Linked DNA regions of Homo sapiens: region 1 is linked to region 2. Evidence: fine-mapped QTL for protein levels in blood plasma. A gene starts in region 2. The other region holds a variant in brackets. All regions are shown on one strand. Distances are between the middles of the regions.

Evidence for each region. PIP is the posterior inclusion probability: the model's chance that the variant is causal. Protein levels are from antibody-based Olink assays in UK Biobank. Linkage for the fine-mapping came from a reference panel and not from the study's own genotypes, which makes the PIPs less certain.
Region 1: its variant is fine-mapped to the plasma level of the IGFBP7 protein (UK Biobank, PIP above 0.99).

Annotation. Positions count from the first base shown.
Region 1 is chr4:57,146,728-57,149,634 of GRCh38, reverse strand. All of the region lies in intron 1 of IGFBP7-AS1 (IGFBP7 antisense RNA 1), which reads right to left. Among named protein-coding and RNA genes, the nearest start is that of IGFBP7, 38 kb to the right of the region's middle. The variant G/A (reference allele first, on the strand shown) is at 1,338.
Region 2 is chr4:57,109,175-57,112,081 of GRCh38, reverse strand. It overlaps IGFBP7 (insulin like growth factor binding protein 7), which reads left to right and starts at 1,697. Exons shown (of 5, transcript NM_001553.3): 1 at 1,697-2,205. The coding sequence starts at 1,731. IGFBP7-AS1 (IGFBP7 antisense RNA 1) reads right to left here and starts at 2,320. Exons shown (of 5, transcript NR_034081.1): 1 at 2,112-2,320. RefSeq lists a silencer at 1,559-1,628.

The DNA of each region.
Region 1 (2,907 bases), 38 kb before region 2:
GGTGTGTGAATTGAAGTTGCTGTTACCTAATCCTTGCAGGATGATTTGTAGCAAGAGACAAGACAAGGCAGGAGAAATGTCTACATGTAGGTCAGGCTGGACCTTCTCCAACCAATTTTCCATCCCAGATTATTTAATCTTCACTTCTAAGGTCCCAGTTTATTACATGCAAAGGACAGATTGATTGCCTGCATTTGACTAAGATGAAGACAGCTTTGTACTCTTGAATCTTTTGCAGAACTTAATTCTTCAAAATCACCCCATATTCCCAGGCCCAGCCACTACTGAACAACTTAAATATCTGCTGGCCTGACCTACCCCAGGCTGTATGTACTTTCCGTTTGCCTGTGAATGGGAACCAAATGGAAACCAGCACATACTCCTGGGTGTCATCAATTCTCCTCAAGCCAAACCAAACTTCATTCTAGCTCCTCAAATGCAGCAATAGTTCTTTGATATTTTTCACTTTCTGATGCTTAAAAGCATTAAGGACTACTAGCTAATTTGGCTACTAGAATACTTTTAAGTCCTGCAGAATGTGGTTGGTTAGTCATAGATGATTAACAGAGGAAAAGAACAGTGTCCAAGTGTCAGCTTCATGTTACTCTAAACTCCTAGCAACTAGGACATCAGAGTCTGGTGAGCTCAGAAATTCTAAGTGTGTGAAGCTTCTCACAGGGTAGAATTCAAAGGACTCCCAAAGTTTCCTTAATCCAGAACACTTCTCCAGCAACCTATTATGATACCTAAAATTTTACCATTAAAGATTTGTTTCAGGCCAGGCACAGTGGATTGTGCCTATAATCCCAGGACCTGGGAGGCTGAGGCAGGAGGAACACTTGAAGCCAGGAGTTTGAGACCAGGGTCAACATAGCAAGACCCTGTCTCTATAAAAATAAAAAGAAAAAAATTAGCTGGACATGATGATGCATGCCTGTAGTTCCAGCCACACAGGAGGATGAGGCAGGAGGATCGCTAGAGCCCAGGAGTTCGAGATCATAGCGAGGTATATTTGTGCCACTGTGCTCCAGCCTAGGTGACAAAGTGAGACCCTGTCTCCAAAAAAAAAAAAACATTGTTTCATTTGAGTTCAATCAAAGTGAGGTCTCTGAATGGCCCTTGTAAGAATCCCAGAAGCTAAGCTCTTAGAGGGCTAGCTATTATCTCCACATTAGCGGAGGTGTCTTCTAAGTTGACAGGCACTGAGCACAAGCCTTTATGAGAATATGAAACATCCAGATTGGAGAGAGACATGAAGAGCAGGAAATGAGTCACAGAAAAGAGGCAAAGAAGGCACTTAGGTACCACTTCCCAATTTAGTCCAGAATCTGTTCAAG[G/A]AAAACACCCATCCAATTTATGAGAGAAATTAGTCCCAGTGAAATGTCCAGAGAATAGAAGTGATAAAATTCCCCATGACATTCTTGGAACCTTTTTTTCTAGAGACAGAGTCTCACTCTTTTGCCCAGGCTGGAGTACAGTGGCTGAATCATAGCTCACTGCAGCCTTGAACTCCTGGGCTCAAGTTATCCTCCCCACCTCAGCTTCTCGAATAGCTGGGACTACACAAGTGCACCATCACACCGGCTAATTTTTTTATTTCTTGTAGAGACAGTCTCACTATGTTGCCCAGGCTGATCTCAAACTCCTGAGCTCAAGCGATCCTCCCACCTCAGCCTCCCAGGGTGCTGGGATTACAGGTGGGAGCCTCCACGCCCAGCCTCCTGGAACTTCAGTAAAACCTAAAGTAGGTTTTTATGCCTTTTCATTCCTGTAACTCACATCATTGGTTGCCACCAGGTGCCTAATCAGGGAAACTAGGACAAGTGGGTGGACACACTTGAGGCAAGCAGAAATTAAAGAGGAGAAATGTACCGTTTAACATAATCGAGTGTCATTAAAAGATTTTTAAATGCTTTCTAAAGTCAGCAAGACAAATCAGTCGACTTCACTTTCTTTTTTTAAAGTGTAAAAAATTGCCACTAGAGTGGGGAAAAAAAATCTCTTGGATGCATTAGTGCTTTATCATTGTCGTCAGCTCTTGCTTTGCCTAACTAATGACTCAATCATCTCTCTCCCTCTGATCCAATCATGTTTCTTCTACCCCAGAGTTGGAGGAGAGTCAATTTCCTCATACTCAGCCGGTACTTAGACCCTGGGCGTAATCCTGGCCTCTTTATCATCTCTTTTCAGGAAGGCTACTAACTGAAATTCTTCTTCTCTAAATGAATTCTATAATGACCCAGAGCCCATATTCACTAACTTTCTTTCCTGGCTTGTTTTATGTAACTATTATAAAGGTAATACTGAACTGCTGGCATCCCACCTACTTAGTGTGTATCTGTTTTGCTCCTTCCCATTTCTACTACTAATAGAAACAGTTTGTCTCTTGTGTTTTATGACACCAAACCCTTGAAATGATCTAATGTAACCTTCATCATTGGACCCACTGGCTTTGGTAAAAACCTGCTGGGGATAGATTCTCCAAATGCTCTTCTCTCCATCTTTGAATGTATCTCTTTATCCATTGCCCCTTCTTCAATCCTATCTCAGGAAAAATACTATACCCCTTGCTCTCTGAGACATAGTATTTCCACTTCCACTCTTCCTTGGCCTTGTCCATTTTGCCTCCTGCTGTATCTTGAAATACGAACTTTTTAACCCTAAACCGCCACCCTATAAATGCTTCCTGTCCTCTGTGTTCTCACTCACAGCCTCTAAATATGCATCTGGGTCACCTAATTAAAACATCTCAACCCTCCCTCCATGTAGAAAGTGCAGACACTAATTCAATGGCTACTTTATATCCTTTAAACGATATATCCAGAGTGACAGGCACATAGCGGATGCTCACAATGTGGTCGTTCCTTTTCCCCAACTGTAGTGGATTTGTTTCTCAGCCTTCCAGCC
Region 2 (2,907 bases):
TCTCTAGTAAAAATACAAAAATTAGCCGGGCATGTTGGTGCATGCCTGTAATACCAGCTACTCGGGAGGCTGAGGCAGAAGGATTGTTTGAAGCTGGGAGGCAGAGGTTGCAGTGAGCCAAAATCTCACCACTGCACTCCAGACTAGGCGACACAGGGAGACTTCATCTCAAAAAAATAAAAAAAAGAAAAAGAAAGAAAAGAAAAGAAAGAAAGAAAGAAATTAAATACAATAGGAAATAGAGTGCACTCTGCATTTGTTTCCTTTTCAAGAAAACAAATGGGTCATGTAAACTGCATCTCTTAGGATGGAACAAAGACAAAAATATTTAGGGAAACTCTGCTGTAAAGATTTTTCATTGTTTTTTAAACAACTGTCAGGTCAACATATGACCTTTGAGGGGAAAAAAAATGCTCCACTTGTCTATAATACACTAAGGAGAGGCCAAAAAGCAGTGCTAGGTTTTTCTGGATTGGAGGATGTTTCCCCACTCTCCACCCCCCGATTTTGTGGTCATTTAATTTTCAAAAAATTTGCAATAATTATCCTTGTAAGAGTCTGTTGAGAATGAGTTCTTTACACTGCTAATGGGATTATGAACTGAACTGCTGGCTTTCAGTCAGCAACCCTGTAAATCCCTGGATTTATGCTAAGAAAAAAGAACACAAAAGAACCACAATGTGACATGCAGAATAATGCACGCTGCAATGTTACACATTCAGTTAAAAAGTGAAAGCAACTTCCATGTCTGCATTGGAGAGGCCAGTGTTCCTGGGAAGAGAGGCTTTCAAGTTGAGTTTGCAGAGCACTTCGCAGAAAGACTGAGGAAGAGTCCACCGTTTATATCAAAAACCTCCTGGAATGCTGGTGAAGACTGGGGGCGCTTTAGGTGCCTCCGTGGCAGCTCCAACGAGGAAGGAGCTGGGACCCCTGCTCCTCTCAGCTGCGCTCTGTTCTCCCGAGAGGCTTGCTGGAGGGCGAGCAGTTCAGCAAGAACTCAAAACAAGGGCACAGCTCTCACACGGATTCCAGTACTCACTGAAAACGGCTCAGCACAAAAAAAGCACAGAGTCTTGTTGAATGCCACTGGGAGACAAAGCGGGGAGGGAGGTGCAGGCAGTTAAGAGGTTCCAGAAAGGGAAGTGGTTGGCAACGGTTTGTCCTTTTAGTGCTTGACACCCAAGACCACAGCAGGCCTGTGGCCAGCGGGGACACAGTCCACAAGTGGGGGTTTTTAACAGCTTGTTCTTAAGAGAGCTTCCCAAACCACAGAGTAATGAGCACTCAGGTGTCTCAGGCCCACGGAGGATTTAATAGATGAAACCCTGGATCGTCTCGAAGCCGTGGTTGTTAAGAAGTTTAAATATATTGACCGGAAACGGGGAGAAACCAGAGGGTGGAAGAGCCGCTCGCACTGCGGTGCGATCCCTGAGGGCTCGGGGCAGGGGACTGGGGACCGAGCAGGAGCTGGCGGGGTGAGCTCTGCGAAGCGGGCGTGAGACCGAGCGCCCATGGGCCGGTCACGCCGGGTGCCCGCTCACCCCCCGACGCCAGCAGGAGCGCGCGCGCAGGCCCCGCGGGGCCGGGAGGGCGGCACGGGCGGGGCCCCCGTGCTCTCACCGCCCCGGGGTGTGGTTCCCGCGGACAGGCCGGGCGGGGCGGCGGGTTTAAGGCGCCGGCCGGCCCGACACGGCTCACTCGCGCCCTTGCCGCTGCCACCGCACCCCGCCATGGAGCGGCCGTCGCTGCGCGCCCTGCTCCTCGGCGCCGCTGGGCTGCTGCTCCTGCTCCTGCCCCTCTCCTCTTCCTCCTCTTCGGACACCTGCGGCCCCTGCGAGCCGGCCTCCTGCCCGCCCCTGCCCCCGCTGGGCTGCCTGCTGGGCGAGACCCGCGACGCGTGCGGCTGCTGCCCTATGTGCGCCCGCGGCGAGGGCGAGCCGTGCGGGGGTGGCGGCGCCGGCAGGGGGTACTGCGCGCCGGGCATGGAGTGCGTGAAGAGCCGCAAGAGGCGGAAGGGTAAAGCCGGGGCAGCAGCCGGCGGTCCGGGTGTAAGCGGCGTGTGCGTGTGCAAGAGCCGCTACCCGGTGTGCGGCAGCGACGGCACCACCTACCCGAGCGGCTGCCAGCTGCGCGCCGCCAGCCAGAGGGCCGAGAGCCGCGGGGAGAAGGCCATCACCCAGGTCAGCAAGGGCACCTGCGAGCAAGGTGGGCACGAGCGCTTCCCTCTCCAACCCTGCGCCGCTCGGCCCAGCGAAGGGCACATCCGACGGGGCGTCCGCGGCGGCCTCGCCCCGCGCTGCTCACTGCGATTCCCCCGCGGGCATCCCAGGAGCCAGATGGGAGGGAAAGAGTTGGCAGCCGCGGAATGCCAGGAGCGGTGGGCGACGCCCCCCCTTCTCCTTTTTGGTGGTTTTATTTTGAGAGTTTGCTGCGTGCGTCCAGAAAGTGAGGGCCGGGTGTATATGTAGAAAAGATTTTCCGAGACCTCAGACTTCCCCATGCCCAAAGCGCACCCAACTCGTGCTAACATCTGTCCATTTCTCATCATTCTTGGCTTGGGGATGTAGAGAGAGGTGAAGTCAAGAGATGGGGGAAAGGAGTTTGACAATTAAATATAAAGTAAGGACTTCCAGACAGACTTTTTTTTTTAAAAGATAGGATCTTGCTCTGTCGCCCAGGGTGGAGGGCAGTGGCACGATCTTGGCCCACTGCAACCTCTGCCTCAAGCGATCCTCCTGCCTCAGCCTCCCAAGTAGCTGGGACTATAAGCCTGTGCCACCACGCCTGGCCAATTTTTGGTTTTTTGTTTTGTTTTGTTTTGTTTTATAGCGACGGAGTTTCACTATGTTGCCTAGGCTGGTCTCGAACTCCTGAGCTCAAGTAATCCCGGCCTGCTGGGATTACAGG